Homo sapiens: one gene and its partner. The protein of the gene in region 2 interacts with the protein of the main gene of each other region in a biochemical or structural test. Each region holds a gene or a part of one and is shown on either strand. Other genes may lie near its edges. The genes, in order: FES and HSH2D.

Region 1 (10,028 bases), on a different chromosome or scaffold from region 2:
AGGTCCCGTTCTCATGTGGTTACATGGCCAGCACCTTCCCAGCAATGGATTTTCTGGGTCCTGCCTCTGGGCCTGATGGCTGGGCTTAGGGCTGCTCAAGGGTGGGGGCCAGGGGACGGGGCTGCGGGCTTACAGGATGCAAGCCATCTCCTCGTGCAGGTCCTGCAGTGACCGCAGCAGGCCGGGCAGCAGGAGCTGGTGGTGGTGCTGGTGGTGTAGCTGCGCAGCCCGCACGCCCAGCACATAGCGGTTGTGGTGAGCAAAGAGCTTCCACAGGCTGCGCACATACTTGTCCTTAGCCTTGTCACGGTCCTTGTCTGCCAGAAGGGGGGCAAGGGGTATAGATGACAGCATGGAGGCCCAGGCAGCCCCCACTCTCTGGGTACCCAAGGACAGGTCAGCACTGGCTTCGGATTCCCTCCCTGCCAGCAAGGGAAGCCACGAACCTTTGCTGGCCTCCTGGTACTTGCGCTTGGCTTGGGCACTGTCCCGTGCCAGAGCTCGGTACTGGCTCTTCAGCTTCTCAATGTCCTGGCTGTGGGTCTAGGGAGAGAGGAGAGGCCAGTGTGGGGCAGCAGGTCCCCAGTTGTGGAAGATTCTTGCCTGGGGTGAAGCCCTGGAAAGGTCCTGTCGTCAGGCAAGGAGCACCTGGAGACTTCTGGGAAAGCTGGCTGCTGACGTGAGAGTCAAAGATCAGAGAGCCTGTTAAAGACAGACCCCTTGGGGAGGCAAAGAGGTAGACTACAGGCTACAATGGTCCCTCCTTGGACTGACAGTGGTAGCCTGGTGGCAGGCAGGGCCAGTTGCAGGTGTGCACGGCCTGTGCAGTCACACGGGGCTCCACATGTAGAAGGGCCCTGTGCTTGGTTTCATTCTCCATTATTGCCACCTGGAAATTCCTAGCAATCTTTTAACAAAGACCCCCACAATTTCACTTTGCACTGGGTCCTGCAAATTATGTTCTTGGCAGTAGGAATAGATGACAGCCCGAGATCAGTGTTCTCGTCCCAGTTCTCCTGTTTATGTGCTGGGATATGTTGGGCAAGCGCCCAACCTCAGTTTCCCCATCTGTAACTGAGCTAGATTCCTCGACTAGATCAGTCTTTTTCTTAAAGGGCCAGATAGTAAATAAATATTTTACGCTTGTAGGCCATAGAGCCTCTGTCACAATTACTCAACTCTGTCATTGTAGTCACAGACAATATGAAAACAAAAGGGCATAGCTGTGTTCCAGCAAAACTTTATAAAAATGGGCCCACCCTTGAATCAGATGATCTTTTGGGGCGAGGAATGGGGCCAGGGTGGCCACCAGGGGCCGCTGTGGGTCCATGGCAAGGCTGGGCTCTGCACTTGAGGAAGGGGTGTGGTGCAGGGAGGGTGACCAGCACACTGAATGGGGGCACTAGGCTCCCAGATAAATAGTTCCAAATCACACAGCCTCTAGACTGAGGAGCTGGGTGGGATTCAAACCTAGGCAGGCTGACTTCACGGCCCGAATCCTCGACCTTCGGGGGGCCATGCTGCTGCCCAGTCTCTGGGGCCCTGAGAGGAGGCTGCCTAGGTCGAAGGCAAACAGACTGACCCTCATTCCTCTCCCTGACTCTCAGAACCCAGAGCCAGATGGCACAGTGTGGAGGCGAGTACCGATTCTGAGCTTCTCCCAGGCACGTGACCGGTCACTCATCCTTACACTCCCAGCACTTTGCCCAGGCACAGAAAAAGCACAGAGAGGCCTTGCTGCAAGCCAGCTCAACGTAGGGGAAGGAAGAGAGGAAGCTGCATCAAGGTTAGAGCAAGCCAGGCCTGCGGTCAGGGACTTACACTTCCCCAGTGAATCCAGGGCCTCTTGTGCAAAACAACCCCTTCGAGGCTCAAAATTTAGACAGAAATGACCGAAGCCCCAGTGCTGCCCGCTCACCTTGGTGAGCTCCTGCTGCAGCTGCTGCCACTGCTCGCTGTAGGTCTTGCGAAGCTGCTGCCGTTCCCGGATGAGCAGGCTCAGCTTGCTCAGGGGCCCTGAGTTCAGATCCTCTGCGTGCTGCCGCAGCAAGCGGCTCAGGCCCTCAGTTTGGCTGGTGATCTCAGCCCAGGACTATACAGCACAGATGGGGGAGGCAGGGAGGGGGGCACAATGGCTCCCAAGCATTGGCCTGCCAGATCTCCAGCCACTGCCCCAGAGGGCCCCCAGGAGAGGAAGGAGAAGGCAGATACAGCCAGCACCCACCAGAGTCCCATAGAGACCCACCTGACTGATGGGGCTGTCAGGGCTGATGGCCCGGCTCTGGCCCCCACTGTCCTGCAGGGACATGTGGTGAAGCAGTCCTGCATACTCCCTGTCACTCTTGACCCGCTGGGCCATCCACTTTCTCATGCCCTCCAGTAGACGAAGCTCGGCCTCCTGCATTTGCTGCAGGACCCCGTGGCCCTGGGGGCTGCACAGCTCGGAAGAGAAGCCCATAGTGCTGTTCTGGGGACAGAAAAGGGGCCATCCCTGGAGGCAAGGCAGCAGCTGGAGACGGAGGCATGGGACGAGGAGACTGGGGACTGTAGGGTCAGGATGGACTGCAGACGGGGAGGAGGTGGGGTCCTGCCTCGCTCACACGCAGCCATGGGTACCCAGCAGCAGCCTGGCCTGGGGACTGGCCCTCATTGCTTCCTTAGCGTCAGGGTCTCCTCCGCACGTTCGGGAACAGGAGCCAACCTGGAGCCTCCCTCCCCAGGCCCTTCCACCCACCACCCCTTACAGGGACACCCTTGCCCAGGTCCTCGACAGGCCAAGCCTGCCCCAGCTGAAGCCTCAGGCGCCCACAGCCTGAGCCCTGCCCCTGCGGCCATCCCCGCCCTTCCGCGGCCCCTACCCCCACCTGGGTGGGTCTCTGGCCCTCGGAACGCCTGCTCTGCCCCTGCCTGCCGCGCCCCCAGCTCCCACCGCTCCTCCAGGCCCCGGGGCTAGAGGTACCCGCACGGGCAGCTGCTCCTGGGACGGCCTCGGACCGACTCAGGCCCGGTGCGGACCCCGGCCAGTTCCTGATTCCGCGCTTCCTCCTCCCGCGGTTTCAGTTGGCCCAGGCCCCGGGGCGGGCCTGTGGAGGGGAAGGGGCGGGCGGGACCGGCCCGACCGCCCCGACGCCTGCCAGCCCCCCTGCTCCGCGCTGGGCCGCAGCCTCTAGCCGGCCGCACGGCCACGGAAACGGAAGGGAGGAGGGGGCCGGGAAAGAATGGCCCAGCCAAGAGCCGCCCGCGCCCCGCAGGCCCCAGGGCCCGGCAGCGCCCCGGGAACACCGGGAAGGGGCGCAAGGTGGGGGTCAGGAGGGGGAGCCCAGGGCGAGGCCCCAGGCAGATGCTGGGCCCAGGGAAGCCCAGGGTGTCCGCGGGTACTGAGGGGAGGCGCGCAGTCCTAGCACCAGGCCAGGGCCACCGCAGAAGAGAAAGAGGGAACCCTGGTCCCAGCCCTCCCCACCTCACGGAATTCCCTAAGGAGAGGCTCAGGCGCCAGCTTCCATTTGAATAAAATTTCCAAGTAAATATCCCGAACAGAGACTGCTTCTCGGATACAGATCCTAGTGGTTTTGTCCCCATCCTCCTACCCCCAGGCAGGGGCTTCCTGTCCCAAGGGAGACCTGGGGAAATCAAGGGGCAGGGGTTGGGGAGCGGACAGGCGTGGAGTTTTCCATTTGGGACTCAGGCTCCCCACAAGAAGTCATCTTGATTCAGTCAGGCCTCCCTCCACCTTAGGCCTCAGCCCTATAGCCTGTGGCGACCAGATCACTTCAGCCCAGGAAGACACAATAGGCCCAGTTCTTCACACTGCTGGAAACCAGGACTTTGGGAGTTTAGTGCTCAGCTCCTGAGGACCAGGGGTCACCAGCCCCACCCCAGGGGCACCAGCTCCTCCACTAGGGGCTGGCGCATCCTCCCGCCCCTTGGAGGACTTTGGCCTTCTGACTTGGGCCCACATCCAGGCAGGCAGGCCACTGTGTAGGCCTAACTGGCCCCCTATCCTCAGCTGCGATGCAGGAGCAACGGTACCACACTGGAGACTGGGCCTGGTTTGCATAGTCTGCACGTTTAATCACTTTAAAACCTCTAACATTATCTCATGTCCATTAAATAGAACCAGCAATGCTGGGCCTGTTTAAATTACAAGAAAAAAATCACTGTGCACCAACCCAGCATCTTACAAAACCAGCCGGGCTGGCCACGAGGGCAGGGGGATGGGAGAGGAGGGGGCACCCCTGGGCAGATGGCTGGGTACCAGGAATGGCTAGGGTAGAAAAGAAAAGGGGACTCCCAGATGGGAGGGGACTGATTGTCCTAATGGGAGGGGTGCAAAAGGCACGTCAGAAGAGGAGGTTTGAGGGGGGCATGACAGGTCAGTGCTTTCTCCACCAGGGCACAGTGTTGGGGGGGCTCAGTGCCACCACCTGCCCACCTCTGGCACTTGGAGAGCCAGTGACCTATGAACCCCCGGCATGGCGAGCCCCACTTGAAACACAGATGTCAGCCTGCCCCTCCCACTGGGACCCCCTTTCCTTGAGCCCGCCTGGCTGGCCCGCCTCTTCAGGACTTGGGGCTCAACTATTCCTCACTCCTCAGCAACATGCTGCAGCCCCCACACCTCAGGGCCAGGGCAGCCAGGGAGGAGCAGGGCGGACGGTGGGTGTGAGAACGTGGGTAGTCCAGCTGCTACCCCCATTAAAAATACAAAAACAAATCATCAGCATCTAAAGTGAAATAATCACAAAGTGAAAATATATCCTCAAACAGCCCCTGAGATCCCCACAGGGGAAAGCAGCATCGGGTGGGAGGCCAGAGAGGCCGGCTGGGCCAGCGCCCCTCCCCACCACCCACCCAGGGGCTCCAGGTCTGTGAGTGCCAACAGCCCAGGCAGCCCGGGCTCAGAAAACAGGGACTTGGGCCCTGACGGGAGAGGCGGGTGCAAGAGAGGGGAGGGTGGTCAGGACACCAGCACAGGGTTCAGCCAGAGCTTCGGCCTTGGCTGCGCCAGCCTGGTGGCCAGTGGTGGTGGAGGCACGGAGCACAGGGGTGGGTCATGGGACACAGGCCACAGGCCACATGCCACGTGCACACCTGGAGGCACCTGCCTTGCCTTGGTCCCTTCCTATGATGGCTGCTGCCGCCAAGACTCACCAGAGCTGGGGGACAGGGTGGAGGGTGCAGAAGCCCTTGGAGAGGTGGCCTCCTCCCTCAGATATCTCCTAGGCCAGCCCCCGACTGCCTGGATGGGACCATTATTGCTTTAGAGGGACAGGGAAGGGCAAGAGCTGCGGCCTGGGTCAGGAATCCCAACAAGCAAGGGCTGCCCCTCTTCACTCCGCAGGAACTCTGGCTGGGGCCGGGGCCGGGGCAAGCTGCCCTAAAGGTTTCACTCCTTTCTCCACATGGAAGGGGTGCTGAGGGTGGGGTACGGCCCTCCCCACGCCCCAGCTGGTCCTGGGCCCACCTCAGGTGGCCAGGTGGGCCCGAGGGTAGGATGGGAAGCAGTCTCCACCCCTCTTGCCTCCCAGCTGGGGTCCAAACCCAGTCCCAAGATAAAAAAATACTTTGGTGAATTAAAAAGTGCCCAAGGAGGGGATTGGCTTGAGGGGGTGGGCAGTGGGCTCATCAGAGGGCGCTCTGGTCTTTGATAAAGGCGGTCCTCTCGCCCCGGCCCTCGTCCTCTTCTGAGTCAGACGGGCACTCCTCCTGCCAGGCTTCAGGGGGCAGCCCCTTGTAGGAGATGAGGCCACGGTCCATGGTGTACACCTTCACCCCCCGAAAACTAAAGCCAGAGCGCAGCTGCAGGACCAGGAAGACAGTGACGAAGACCAGCACGATGAAGGCGCAGCTGAGGCCGGCCACCACCTCAGGCAGGTGTGAGGGCAGCAGCCCTGCCCGCAGCCGTTGCCCCGCCTCCACCTCCGGGGGCAGCCGAGGTGGCTGCTGCTGTGGCGGGGACTCTCGGCTGCTCTGGCTTTGCCGGGAGCAAGTCTGCTCCACAGGGTCCAAGGAGGCGTGGCTGGGGCAGCTGAGGCAGTCTGTCAGGGCCGGCCCCTGGCATGTGGCACATGAGGCGTGGCAGGGGGCGCAGACGCTGGCCCGGATGGTCTCCACGTCATTCTCGGTGCTATAGTGCGTATCGAGGACTTGGGGGGCGAACCCTGGAGGGCAGTGCTGGACACAGCTCTTCTGGTGCAGGGAGAAGCCTTCCTCGCACACTGCCGGCGTGGGAGAGAGGGCAAGTGTGTGTCAGCTAAACAGACTGTAGCCCCAGGACCACAGCAGCCCCAAGCCAAGTCACCACATCCCCAGGATCCTCCAGCCCCAGGACTGTGGTCATCCCAAGAGCCCCAGGGGCCCTAGGTCTCTTGAGACTTTTTTCTGTTAGAGCTGGGCTTCAGGACAGGCACCCGCCTTACCCCCAGACTCAGGCCCCCAAAGCCCAACAGCACCCACTACTGACCCACACAGGCCTGACTGGACGTGAGGGTCTTGCAGCCACTGCTTTCTGGAGGTACGGGCAGCCCCTCAGGGGCGGTGCCATAGAGTACGAGGGTGAACTTGGTCAGCGTCCCTGTTCCAGAGCGGGGAGGAGGCAAGAGTTAAGACAGTGCTGGCACCACACCCAGTGCTCGAGATCCTGCCAGCCCTCCACCTCGTACCCCTACCCCTCAAGTGCCCCCAGTACCATAGTTGTTGGCTTCGCTGGTGTTTTCAATCTCTAGGACCCACTCGCCAGAGGGATCCTCATCCCAGGAATGAGTTGTCATGAAGGCCCAGTCATTAAACCCATCTGCGGAGTAGTCATGTGGCCTGGGGAGGGGAGTGCACACAGCCCTGAGGCCTCTGCGGGACCCCAAGCCAGGGACATCTAACCCACAGCACATGGGCCACACACCCTTCCCCCACGCAGACCAACCCCATGGGGCCAGAAGTGCCTGCTGGCTTGGCTGTTTCTCAGTGAGCCAGACGTGCTCAACTGGGGGATTCTAGAAAGGTACACAGGCACCGCACAAGGTGGGGCACACTACTGACATTAAATGGTTGCAAGCCAGGGATTCCTGCAACATGGGACAGTCCCACAGGACAAAATTGTCCCTCCCAAAATGCCAAGAGTGCCCCACTGAGTAGCACTCAGTGCCCCCTGGGCCGTGTGAGCGAGCAAAGGCAAGCACGCGGGCTGTGAGAGGCGGCGGCGCTGGGCAGGGCGGGCAGGGACAGAGCAAGCACCTGGCTGCCAGCAGGGTGGAGCGGGTGCCCATGGGGCTGACCAGGTGGATGGCCAGGTCGCCACGGCGATTATAGGACAGGGTGAGCCGCGCCTGAGCGTGCTCCAGCCGAGTGATGTGGTTGGGCTCGCCCAGGCACGCGGTCACGGTCTTCCGCACCTCGAGCCGTTTCCCGATGTCTCTGTGCAGGAGAGCACCATGATGGTCAGCCTGGCCCAGAGGGACCAGCGGGCACCCCCTGCGACTCTCAGGTCCCACTGGCCCCCTCCCAGCCTGGGTCCAGCCCTCACTTGGGCTCGGTGAGGATGTCGATGATGCACTTCCGCTGGGGGGCCACTGTGGTCCAATTCTGGGCCAGGGCCACCATGGCGCCTGCGTCCAAAAGCCCGTAGCCATATGAGTGGCTCACTGTGGGGACAGGGAAGGTAGGGTCAGCTGTCAGGCACAGAGTGCCTTCTACCTAACTCCACATCCAGCCTGCCGGGCCAGCCTGCCCTCACCTTTCCGGCCCACACCATTGGTGGCCCAGTCGTTGGCATTGAGGTGGGCTGGCTTCGAGGTCTGTACCACCAGGTGTTGCATGTCCCGCCATGTGAGGTTCTTACTGCAAAGAAGGAAGGGAGAGGCTGGGGATCAGTCTTTTTTGGGAGCAGCTCTCCAGCTGCCCTAAGGGCTGCCCTACAGAGAGTGCTGGTAGGGACAGGGTTGCCGCTGGCCCCCACCCACTTACTTGGCCTCCAGGGTGAGAGCAATGATGCCGGCTGCTAAGGGGGCAGAGGCTGAGGTGCCCGTGTGAGACTCCGTGCACTTCTGCCGCAAGTCAGTCGTCACCTGCCAGGAAGAGAATCATATTGGGGCCTGTGATGGGTGGAGGGGGCTAGAGGAGCCACCTGCCTACCCTCCCTCTGCATACAGGCCCTGGGCACCACAGATGGTATGGGGAGCCAGGGCCAAGAACCCCAGGTCCCAGCTGCTGCCTTGCTAACTTGCCGTGGACATGCTAATGACGAGCCCCTCCTGGGCCTCATTTTCCAAAGGAATAAGGGGGTTCAACTAGAGGGTGGAGATGAATAAGAACAAAGTATGTTTTTAGAGAGAGTCTAGGCTTTTCAAAGTCTTCAGAGATGGCTCCATGGCCTCCAAGAACCTACAGAGCCCCAGAGTTCATGTTGCATGATGCCTGAGCCACTATCACCCAGCCACATGGGGGTGGAGGCAGACAGCCTCCAAAAGAGGGTGCTGGACAGAGCCAGCCAGCAGCCCCATCTCCCCAGCCCCCACCCCCAGGTAAGACTCACGATCTGCTTCTCATTCTGGTTGCCACTGCTGTAGGTCGTGGCCAGTGTGGACGAGCAGGCCTCGCTGTACCACGGCACGTTGCCAAACTGCGTGGCGCTGCTGATGGACAGCGTGTAGATACTGTTGGTGTAGCCGTCGCAGTTGCAGCTGTCATGTTCCCGGCCCCCGTTCCCCGAGGCCCAGACAAAGATGGAGCCCAGCCCCCCTCGGCCCTGTGGACAGAGTGGGCTGGGGTCATTCAAGATTGGGACTTGAGGGAGGGCTGGCAGGAGGACACTGCTGGAAAACTGGGAAGGCTGGAGCCTCATTCTCTGGGAACCTCCTGTCCCCTGTGAGATCCCTGGTGGATCAAGTATGTATCCAAATATGTCTATCTAGGCACACAAAAAATCAGACCAAGAGGCCAAGGCGGGAGGATCGCTTGAGGCCAGGAGTTTGAGACCAGCCTGGGTAACACAGCAAGACCTCATTTCTAAAAAAAATGTGTTTTTTAATTAGGCAAGTCCAAGTGGTATATGCACTCTACTCTTCTTCTGTCCCTTAATGTTTCAATAAACATGCTTTGTGTAAAGTTAAACATGAGAATAAATAAAACAAACCAAAAAACACAAGATAGGTACGGAAGACAGCACCCAACCTGCCCGCAGGGGCTGGACAGATCCCCACCTCACCTGGCTAACCCCACGGAAGAAGGCCTCCTCGGCGAGGCGGGCTGGCCCATCCACTGTCTTGCCGTCATCCTCGGGGCCCCAGCTGGCACTGTAGATGTGGATGTGGTTGGGGTTCAGGCCCAGCGAGCGTGCCTCCACTGCATCTGTCACCTCGCCATCCAGCATGCGCACCCCTGGCCGTGAAGGGGGGGCACGAAGAGGGATGCTGCATGGGTCCAGCTGTCAGGGCCCCCACCCCAAGGAGCACACCCAGCCCTGCACCCCAGGGGATGAGTAAGGGAAGGGTGGAGGCTGATGCTGAGAAACCCTGAACCCCCAACTACCTGTTTGCCTCTGCCTTTCAAAGACAAGACCCAGAGAAGGAAAAAGAGAACACCTCCTGCCCCCAACCACACATTCAGGACTAGAAAGAGTCTCTGGTTCCCAAAAGAGCCTGGTGATCAAGGATCTGCCACGTGAGGACTCACAGTGGGTCGTGAGGATTTCAGGAGACTCCTGCTAGGAAACCCTCACTCCACAGGGGTCCAGCTCTTTCAGTCTTTGACCCTTTGGGAACCCTCCATGGAACAGCCACGTGATCAAAGGATCCACAGTGGGAAAGTGGCAGGCATTGGCCAGATGGGAAGTGGGCGGGAAAAATTCCACTGAAGGGCCCTCCTGAAGACAGGGTGGCCCAGGCCCACACTCACCTCCAATGCGGGCGTTGTAGGCCACACCTACACCACAGACACCGTTGTTGGCCACCGCAGCCACTTCCCCCGCACACCGTGTGCCGTGCCTGCCAGGGCCAAGCACGTAGCATGAGTAGAACAAATGGGGTGAACAGGGC
Region 2 (10,328 bases):
CCAAGTAGCTGGTACTACAGGTGCATACCACCACACCCAACTAATTGTTTTACTTTTTTGTAGAGATGGTGTCTCACTGCCCAGGCTGGTCTTGAACTGGCCTCAAGTGATCCTCCCACCTCAGCCTCCCAAAGTGTTGGGATTACAGGTGTGAGCCACCACACCCACCCTGTTATTACTATGACCACCATTGTTCATCTTGTTCCCCAAGAAAAGTGCAGTGGTGCAATCTTGGCTCACTGCAACTTCTGCCTCCTGGGTTCAAGCAATTCTCATGCCTCAGCCTCCCGAGTAGCTGGGATTACAGGTCCCGCCACCACGCCTGGCTAATTTTTGTATTTTTAGTAGAGATGGAGTTTCACCATGTTGGCCAGGCTAGTCTCAAACTCTTGACCTCAGGTGATCCACCCACCTTGGCCTCCCAAAGTGCTAGAATTACAGGTGTGAGCCACCGTGTCCAGCCAGTTCTGGACATTTCATATCAATGGAATCATGCACTAGGTGGCCTTTGTGTCTGGCTTCTCTCAGCATCATGTTTTTGGGGCTCATCCACATTGTAGCATGGAGCAGTGCTTCCTTCCTTTCTGTGGCTGAATCATATTTCATGGTGTGGATGATGGAACCACGTTTTGTTTACCCATTCATTCATTCATGGACATTTGGGTTGTTTCCACCGTTTGGACACCTTAGCTGTCATCATCTGTGCCTCAGACATACCAAGTTCTTTCCTACCACAGGGCCTTTGCCCGTGCTGATTTTGTTTGTTTGTTTGAGATGGAGTCTCGCTCTGTTGCCCAGGCTGGAGTGCAGTGGCAAGATCTCAGCTCACTGCACCCTCCGCCTCCCGGGTTCAAGCGATTCTTCTGCCTCAGCCTCCCGAGTAGCTGGGACTACAGGCGTGCGCCACCATGCCCAGCTAATTTTTGTATTTTTGGTAGAGACAGGGTTTCACCATGTTGGCCAGGCTGGTCTCGATCCCTTGACTTCATGATCTGCCTGCCTCAGTCTCCCAAAGTGCTGGGATTACAGGTTTGAGCCACCGCACCCAGCCTGCCCTTGCTATTTTCTTTTCTGCCTGACTGTCCTGCATGTGAACTCATTCAGCATCTGTCTCCTCATAGACTGTGGGCCCTAGAAGGGTGGGGACCATGCCAATCTTGCCTTTTTTTTTTGAGACACAGTCTCACTCTGTGACCCAGGCTGGAGTGCAGTGGCATGATCTCAGCTCACTGCAACCTCCATCTCCCAGTTCAAGCAATTCTTCTGCCTCAGCCTCCTGAGTATCTGGGATTACAGGCATGAGCCACTACGCCCAACTAATTTTTGTGTTTTTAGTATAGACAGGGTTTCCCCATGTTGGCCAGGCTGGTCTTGAACTCCTGACCTCAGGTGATCTGCCCACCTCGGCCTCCCGAAGAGCTGGGATTACAGGCATAAGCCACAGCACCCGGCCCGATCTTGCCTTCTGCTTCATCTGCAGCATCTAGCATGGTGCCCATCCAGAGCTGGGGCTCAGCCAGTGTTTGTGAAATCAATGAATGAATAGAATGAAGGCATTGTAGGAAGCTAAAATCATAAAATTACATCAAGTCCAGGGTTGGGCACAGTGGCTCATGCCTATAATCCCAACACTGGGAGGCTGGGGTGTGAGGATTGCTTGAGCTCAGGCGTTCTAGACCATCCTGGGCAACACAGCAAGACCCTGTCTACAAAATAAAAATTGAAAAATTAACCGGGCATGGTGGTGTGAGCTTGTGATTGCAGCTACTTGGGAGGCTGAGGCGGGAGGATCACTTGAGCCCGGGAGTTTGAGGTTGCAGGGAGCTATGATGGCACAGTGCACTTCAGCCTGGGCAACAGAGTGAGACCTTGTCTCTAAAAAGAATCGCATCAAACCCAGTGTTGGCAGAGCCTAAGGGCTTCCCCACTCCCTGACATGTATGGGCCCAGCATTTTCCCAGCACTAAGATGGCATTGTGGCCACCTCCCCCAAGAGCCACCCCACGTGAATCTGTGAATGGCCCACTTACCAGCTGCGGCCTCTGCTGAGAAGCCCAGATCTGTCTCCCTGGAGAACCTGGTATCAGAGAGAGGGGGCCTTGGAATTCTAGCCCCGTTATCTCCCCATCAGGGCACCTTCGTTTTCCCCTCCACACCCTTCCTTCCTCTGGGGGACGCATGTCCGTTTGCGGGCCGAGGCCTGCGGACACTGAGGGGTGTGGGGGTGATTCTGTTGCGACATCTGAAAGGAAGACGTTAGTTTGTGGGAGACCACATCACCCAAGCAGGTCAGGGGAAGCGAGGTTGGGCCGTTTGTGGTGAGGTCTTAGGGGACTGTGCTAGAGCTGGGCCAGCGTACCCCCATGTTCCTGGAAACTCTAAACCCCATGCAAATAAGAGCCCCGATGGTCAGACTTTCCCAGGAGGATCAGAGAAGTGAAGTGAAGTGAAGGCCAGGCCCGGTGGCTCATGCCTGTAATGCCAGCACTTTGGGAAGTCCAGGCAGGTAGATCGCTTGAGGCCAGGAGTTTGAGGCTGCAGTGAGTTGTACTTGCACCACTGCACTCCAGCCTGGGCAACAGAACAAGATCCTGTCTCAAAAAAATAAAAAATAAAAATAAATAAATAAATACTTCAGGCCTATAATCCCAGCACTTTGGGAGGCCAAGGTGGGCAGACCACTTGAGGTCAGGAGTTCAAGACCAACCTGGCCAACATGGTGAAACCCTGTCTCTACTAAAAATATAAAAATTAGCCAGGAGTGGTGGTGCACACTTATAATCTCAGCTACTGGGGAGACTGAGGCAGGAGAATCGCTTGAACCCGGGAGGTGGAGGTTGCAGTGAGCCAAGATCGCACCACTGTACTCCAGCCGGGGCGATAGAACAAGACATCATCTCAAAAATAAAAAGGCCAGATGCAGCAGCTGACACCTGTAATCCTAACACTTTGGGAGGCTGAGGCGGGAGGATCACTTGAACGAGACCAACCTGGCAACATGACAAAACCCCATCTCTTCAAAAATCCAAAAATTAGCCAGGCGTGGTGGTGGTGCTCCTGTAGTCCCAGCTACTCAGGAGGCTGAGATGGGAGGATCACTTGAGCCCAGGAAGTAGAGGCTGTGGTGAGCTGAGACTGCACCACTGCACTCCAGCCTGGGCAACAGAGTGAGGGGACCCTACTCAAAAAAAAAAGAAGAAGAAAAAGAGATTAGCCACAGAGAGGTGAAGTGAGTTGCCCAAGGCAGCTCAGCCCATGAGGTCTGAGGCCCAAGCCAGAGTCTCCCCCAGGCAAACACAAAGGCCTTGCTTGAATTAAGTCACAACAAAGAGTCCTGATTCTCTCACTCCCAACTCATCTCCATGTGCTGTGCTGGAGAGTTGCCTCTCCTAGCATCTTCACATGATTAAGGAGGGCTATTATGCCCATTGCACAGATGCAGAACTGAGGCTCAGAGAGGCTGAGCAACTCACCTTAGGACACACAGCAGGTGAGTGAGAAGCAGGGCTCCACGTGTCTCCTGCTTAGACCTTGTTGACCACAGAGGGCAGACGAGGTGCTGCTGTTGCCGAGGAGGAGCAGGGGGGTGAGAGAGGCACCCAGGGTGAGCCTGGGGTTATCTAGCCCAGCTGGGCCAGGGCAATAGGCCCTTGGGGAGGCCCCCAGTAGGATCTGGGCCCTTTCTGCCTGAAAGGAGAGGAGGAAGTAGTTTTGTTTGTCTGCCTGGGGTACGAGCACACGGCCAGAGCTGGCCAATCTGTTAGGCACACAGGGCCTGCACCCAGGACCCAAGTGCTGTGTGGGACTTCCCAAAGGGCTTCAGCTTATTTAAAATCAGAAGAAAAAAAACTGAACATCCTAATAATAAATATACAATAAGGAATCCAGCCTGGACCACATCGGTCTTAATGCCAACACAGTTGTAAAATAGAATTTTAAGCTGGCACGGCGGCCCACACCTGTAATCCCAGCACTTTGGGAGGCTGAGGCGGGTGGATCACCTGAGGTCAGGAGTTTGAGACCAGCCTGGCCAACATAGTGAAACCTTGTCTCTACTAAAAATACAAACATTAGCCAGGCGTGTTGGTGGGCACCTCTAATCCCAGCTACTCAGGAGGCTGAGGCAGGAGAGTCACTTGAACCAAGGTGGGCGGATCGCTTGAGCCCCAGGAGTTTGAGACCAGCCTGGGCAACACAGCAAGATCCCATCTCCAAAAAAAATATTTTTTTAATTAGTCAGGTGTGGTGGTGTGTGCCTGTAGTCCCAGCTACTTGGGAGCCTGAGGCAGGAGGATCACTTGAGTCCAGCAGTTCAAGACTGCAGTGAGCTATGATCATACCACTGCACTCCAGCCTGAGTGACAGAGTGAAACTCTGTCTCTAAAATAGGTTAGTCAATTAATAAAAATATTTTAAAATATTTTATAATGGAGGAAGTCCTGGTGTGGACCTATGCGTGCCATGAGACCCCAGCCTGTCCAGGCTCAATTCAGTTTCAAGGCCTTTGTGCCTGCTCTTCCCTCCCCCAGCCTGGGCAATATAGCAAGACCCCATCTCTACAAAAAAATATACTCTTTCTGCACTACGCACTCCCCAAATCAAGATGATTCCTTCTCACCCTCAAATGCCCCTTCCTTCACGTCAGTTAGGTCACCTCTGTGGGTTTGTGCAACTGCTGTTCCCACTTCCTGTTTCCCCTTTGGATTTTTTTGTTTGTTTGGGGTTTTTTGTTTTTTTGTTTTGTTTTGTTTGGTTTTCGTTGGTTTTGTTTTGTTTGAGACGGAGTTACACTCTCGCTGCCCAGGCTGGAGTGCAGTGGTGAGATCTCAGCAAACCGCAACCTCCACCTCCCGGGTTCAAGCGATTCTCCTGCCTCAGCCTCCCAAATAGCTGGGATTACAGGCATGTGTCACCACGCCGGGCTAATTTTGCAGTTTTAGTAGAGACGGGATTTCTCCATGTTGGTCAGGCTGGTCGCGAACTCCTGACCTCAAATGATCTGCCCACCTTGGCCTCCCAAAGTGCTGGGATTACAGGCATGAGCCACCGCACCCAGCTGGTGTTTTTTTGTTTGTTTGTTTTGCGGGGGACAGAATTTCCCTCTGTCATCCAGGCTAAAGTGCAGTGGCGTGATCTCGGCTCACTGCAGCCTCTGCGTCCCTGGTCCAAGCGATTCTCTTGCATCAGCCTCCTGAGTAGCTGGGATTACAGGCACCCGCCACCACGCCTAATTTTTGTATTTTTAGTAGAGACAGGGTTTTACCATGTTGGCCAGCCTGGTCTCAAACTCCTGGCCTCAAATGATCCACCCGCCTCGGCCTCCCAAAGTGCTGGGATTACAGGCGTGAGCCACCGCGCCCAGTTTCTGTTCCCCCTTTGTTGCTTTTGTTTTTGTTTTGAGAAGGAGTCTCACTCCGTTGCCCAGGCTGGAGTGCAATGGTGCGATCTCTGCTCACTGCAACCTCCGCCTCCCGGGTTCAAGCAATTCTTGTGCCTCAGCCTCCTGAGTAGCTGGGATTACAGGCGTGCGCCGCCACACCCGGCTGATTTTCGTATTTTAATAGAGACGGGGTTTTGCCATGTTTGCCAGGCTGGTCTCAAACTCCTGACCTCAAGTGATCCGCCTGCCTCAGCCTGTCAAAGTGCTGGGATTGCAGGTGTGAGCCACCGCACCCGTTCCCCGTTCTCCCTTTGTAATGATGTCTCACTCCTCTTCACTGCTTGATAGATTATAGATGCCAGGAGTCAGGGGGCCTGCACCTGTCTCCGTGTCACCCCTGTGTCCTCCAAACAGCAGGCACACAGTAGGTGCTCAATAACAACTTGCTGGGGGCAAGACAGGAGCAAGCTGTCTCTGCACCTGTGGCACCAGATGCTTTGTTGGACTGCAGACAGGGTGACTTGAGCTGTCCTTGTTCCGCCCCCAGGGCTCACCTGCTTGAGGAAACAGGAACTGCCTCGGGGCAGCCAGCCCCGCCCCATTGACGTGCAGACCTTGAATCGAAACCCAGGCTCCTGCAGGCACTGGCACAGCTACAGCGAGGGCCTCGGCCATCCAAGGGTCTCCCAGGTATGTGACCCAAGAGCCTCAGCCCTCGAGGAGACAGAACGTGGGGGCTGGGCTAGGCCAGAAGGAGGGACAGGGCTAGTGGGGCCTGGGGTGGCAGGAGGGATTTTCTAGGGGCATGGGGGAGAGCTTCGTGGAGGAGGGGGTATTTGTGGTGACCACAAATGGAAAATGGAGCTGGAGTTAGGGAAAAGGGGGTCTTGGCAAGACAACAGCATGAGCAAAGGTATGGAGAGGCAAGAGAGAGAGAGCAAGGATGTCTTTAGGTCTAGAATGTGGGTAGCGGGGAAGTAGAGGAGGCTCCCAGGCCAGGGTCAGGAGCTTGAATTTGAGCATGCGGTCTTTCATCACTAGATAGCTGTTCACCAGCAAAGACCCTTGCACCCTCCTCTGTGCCAGGCCAGCACCAGGACACAGAAAAAAACAACAACACAGGAACCTAGCCCTAAGCCCTGATCCCTAGGAGGCCCTCAGGCTGGTGGAGACAGAGCAAGATAAAGACACTCTAGCTCCATGGAGTCATGGCTGGACCAGAGAGAGGAACAGGGGGGAACGTTGGGGACAGAGAGGGGTGCCAGGGTGTTGTCTGGGGGGAGATGCAGGAAAGCTGCCTGGAGGAGGGGACATTTTTACTGGGTTTTGAAGGATAAATAGGAGCTCTTCCAAGTAAAAAAAAAGAATAAGCCTGTAAACATTACCCCATGATAGGTCACAACTGGATTCATGAATATTGTATATATATCTCTATATATACACAGTGCTAGCTAAACTTTCCTAGGTAAATATCATTATTCCCAAATTAAAGACAGAAATACAGGGACAGAGAGCCATTAAGTGACTTATCTGAGGTCACACAGCGGCTAAGTGGGCGAGCTAGGGTTTGAACCCAGGCCATCTGGGTCGAATTCTAGGCTCTTTTTTTTTTTTTTTTTTTTTTTTGAGACGGAGTCTTGCTCTGTCGCCCAGGCTGGAGTGCAGTGGCTCGATCTCAGCTCACTGCAAGCTCTGCCTCCCGAGTTCACGCCATTCTCCTGCCTCAGCCTCCCAAGTAGCTGAGACTACAGGCGCCCGCCACCACACCCAGCTAATTTTTCGTATTTTTAGTAGAGACGGGGTTTCACCATGTTAGCCAGGATGGTCTCAATCTCCTGACCTCGTGATCTGCCTGCCTCAGCCTCCCAAAGTGCTGAGATTACAGGCATGAGCCACCGCACCTGTCCCAGGCTCTTTTTTTGTTGTTGGTGGTGATGGGTTTTTTTTTTGGGGTTTTTTTTTTTTTTTTTGTGAGACAGAGTTTCGCTCTGTTGCTCAGGCTGGAGTGCAGTGGTGCGATCTTGGCTCACTGCAAACTCTGCCTCCCGAGTTCAGATGATTCTCCTGCCTCAGCCTCCTGAGTAGCTGAGACTACAGGCACATGCCACTGTAAGTTTTGTATTTTTATTTCATATTTATTTATTTTGAGATGGAGTCTTGCTCTGTTGCCCAGGCTGGAGTGCAGTGGCTCGATCTCAGCTCACTGCAACCTCCGCCTCCCAGATTCACGCAATTCTCCTGCCTCAGCCTCCTGAGTAGCTGGGATTACAGGGGTGAGCCACCTTGCCCAGATAATGATTGTCTTTTTATTAGAGATGGGGTTTCACCATGTTGGCCAGGCTGGTCTCAAACTCCCAGCCTCAGGCAATCCGCCTGCCTCAGGCTCTGACAGTGCTGGGATTACAGGTGTGAGCTACTGCACCCAGCCTCCAATTCCAGGCTCTTAATCATTTTGTCACCCTGCTTTATTAAACATTTCTTAATACAGTTATTTAATTTTGGTTGCCCCAGAATTCCCTCAGGCCATACCCCAGAGGGTATGCTTGACATCTGGTTGGAGAAAGTCAATATTGACTGCCATTGGTCAACAGACCCCGCCTCCTCATAGAGACAGCCCAGTAAAAAGATCTTTTGAGATATTGAAACATTAGATGGGGCCAATGGGTGGAGGGAGTGAGCTCCAGTTTAAGGACAGAATTTATGGTGAGTGGCCGGGCGCAGTGGCTCACGCCTGTAATCCCAGCACTTTGGGAGGCCAAGGTGGGTGGATCACTTGAGGTCAGGATTTGGAGACCAGCCTGGCCAACATGGTGAAACCCCATCCCTGCTAAAAATACAAAAATGATCCAGGCGTGGTGGCACATGCCTGTAATCCCAGCTATTCAAGAGGCTAAGGCAGGAGAATCACTTGAACCTGGGAGGCGGAAGTTGCAGTGAGCTGAGATCGCGCCACTGCACTCCAGCCTGGGCAACAGAGCGAGATTCCATCTCAAAAAAAAAAAAAAAAAAGAATTAAGGGTGAGCAAGAGGGGTCCTGAAGGAACTATCTAGCAAGATACAATCCTTTGGCTTGTCTTACACTCACTTAATAATGTTTTGCAAAACGGTGCTGCTTTCTCTCTCCAGCTCTGTCATTGGTACACAAAGTCCCATGGTACCGCTTGCTTAAAATTGTCAAGAAAGTGTGTGAATTAATGATGCATCTGACATATCGTAGGTGTGCCATGAGTGGCTACAACGTGTAGTGACGTTGGTGGCAGAAGTGACTGTCTGAAGCCACATTTCTCTGGTGTTTAATGAAACCAAGGCAGCCAGGCACTGTGGCTCATGCCTGTGATCCCAGTATGTTGGGAGGCTGAGGTGTTAGGATTGCTTGAGCCCAGGAGTTCAAAGCCAGACTGGACAACAGAGCAAGACCCTGTTTCTACAAAAAAATTTTCAAAATTAGCCAGGCATGGTACTGCATGCCTGTAGTCCCAACTACTCAGGAGGTTGAAGTGGGAGGATTGCTTGAGCCTAGGAGGTTGAGGCTGCAGTGAGCATGAGCTGTGATTGCACCATTGCACACTCCAGCCTCAGGAACAGAGGGAAACCCTGTCTCAAAAAAAAAGAAAGAAAGAAATCAGGGCAACCCTTTTTGACCACCACCGTTGGGTCAGCTGTTTATTTCGTTCACTTGCCATTTTGTCATTTCCTTATTCCTCCAGGGGCCTTGATATTTACTTAATATTTAAATACTCTACTCTTTTTTTTTTTTTTGAGATGGAGTCTCACTCTGCCCCCCAGGCTGGAGTGCAATGGCGCGATCTTGGCTCACTGCAACCTCTGCCTCCTGAGTTCTAGCAATTCTCCTGCCTCAGCCTCCTGAGTAGCTGGGATTACAGGCACCCACCACCTCATCTGGCTAATTTTTGTATTTTTAGTAGAGATGGGGTTTCACCATGTTGGCCAGGCTGGCCTCGAACTCCTGACCTCAGGTGATCCACCTGCCTCAGCCTCCCAAAGTGCTGGGATTACAGGCGTGAACCACCATGCCCAGCTCTAAATACTCTATTCTTAAATTTCAAAACATTTATTTATAAAATGAACTTTCTAGTCCTTGCAATAATGGCATAAAAGGCTGGGCACAATGGCTCACACCTGTAATGCTAGCACTTTGGGAGGCTGACACAGGTGGATTTCTTGAGTCCAGGAGTTTGAGACCAATGTGGGCAGCAAGGTGAAACCCCATCTCTACAAAAATACAAAAATTAGCCAGGCGTGGTGGCACATGCCTGTGGTCCCAGCTACTTGGGGGACTGAGGTGGGAGAATCACTTGAGGGAAGAAGGTCGAGGCTGCAGTGAGCCAAGATGGGGCCACTGCACTCCAGCCTGGGTGACAGAGTGAGACCCTGTCTCAAAAAAAAAAAAAAAGAAAAAAAACACAATGGCATAAGAAGAATAAAAGGAAAAGTCCTTGAAGGCCTTTGGGGATGAGCCAATGAATGAATGTGTAAAAACTATCAGGCACATAGTAGGTGCCCAAAAAATCACAAGCCAGTGGTTTTTTTTTTGTTTTGTTTTGTTTTGTTTTGTTTTGAGACGGAGTCTCACTCTGTTGCCCAGGCTGGAGTGCAGTGGTGCAATCTCGGCTCACTGCAGCCTCCGCCTCCTGGGGTCAAGTGATTCTCGTGCCTCAGCCTCCCAAGTAGCTGTGATTATAGGCACAGGCCGCTGTGCCCAGCTCATTTTTGTATTTTTGTAGTGACAGGGTTTCACCACGTGGCCCAGGCTGGTCTTGAACTCCTGATCTCAGGTAATCCACCTGCCTTGGCCTCCCAAAGTGCTAGGATTACAGGCGTGAGCCACCACGCCCAGCCACACAAGCCAGTTTTTTGTTGTTGTTGTTTTTGAAACATGGTCTTGCTCTGTTCCCCAGGCTGGAGTGCAGTGGCACAACCACAGCTC

Evidence for each region.
Region 1: of the proteins of HSH2D (region 2) and FES, one has a biochemical effect on the other in vitro, tested with the Homo sapiens proteins (one study listed by BioGRID).

What each region holds. Positions count from the first base shown.
Region 1 is NC_000015.10:90,877,476-90,887,503, reverse strand, and holds the start of FES (tyrosine-protein kinase Fes/Fps), read right to left. Parts: upstream 3,001-10,028; 5' UTR 2,960-3,000; exon of another isoform or gene 2,865-2,959; intron 2,468-2,864; 5' UTR 2,459-2,467; coding exon 2,246-2,458; intron 2,093-2,245; coding exon 1,919-2,092; intron 544-1,918; coding exon 447-543; intron 318-446; coding exon 134-317; intron 1-133. Other genes in the region: furin isoform 1 preproprotein, read right to left, coding at 5,626-6,218, 6,464-6,574, 6,689-6,813, 7,231-7,410, 7,520-7,637, 7,730-7,833, 7,960-8,060, 8,528-8,740 and 2 more. UniProt on the Homo sapiens protein: Tyrosine-protein kinase that acts downstream of cell surface receptors and plays a role in the regulation of the actin cytoskeleton, microtubule assembly, cell attachment and cell spreading.
Region 2 is NC_000019.10:16,137,705-16,148,032, forward strand, and holds the start of HSH2D (hematopoietic SH2 domain-containing protein), read left to right. Parts: upstream 1-5,980; 5' UTR 5,981-6,070; intron 6,071-10,328. UniProt on the Homo sapiens protein: May be a modulator of the apoptotic response through its ability to affect mitochondrial stability. Adapter protein involved in tyrosine kinase and CD28 signaling. Seems to affect CD28-mediated activation of the RE/AP element of the interleukin-2 promoter.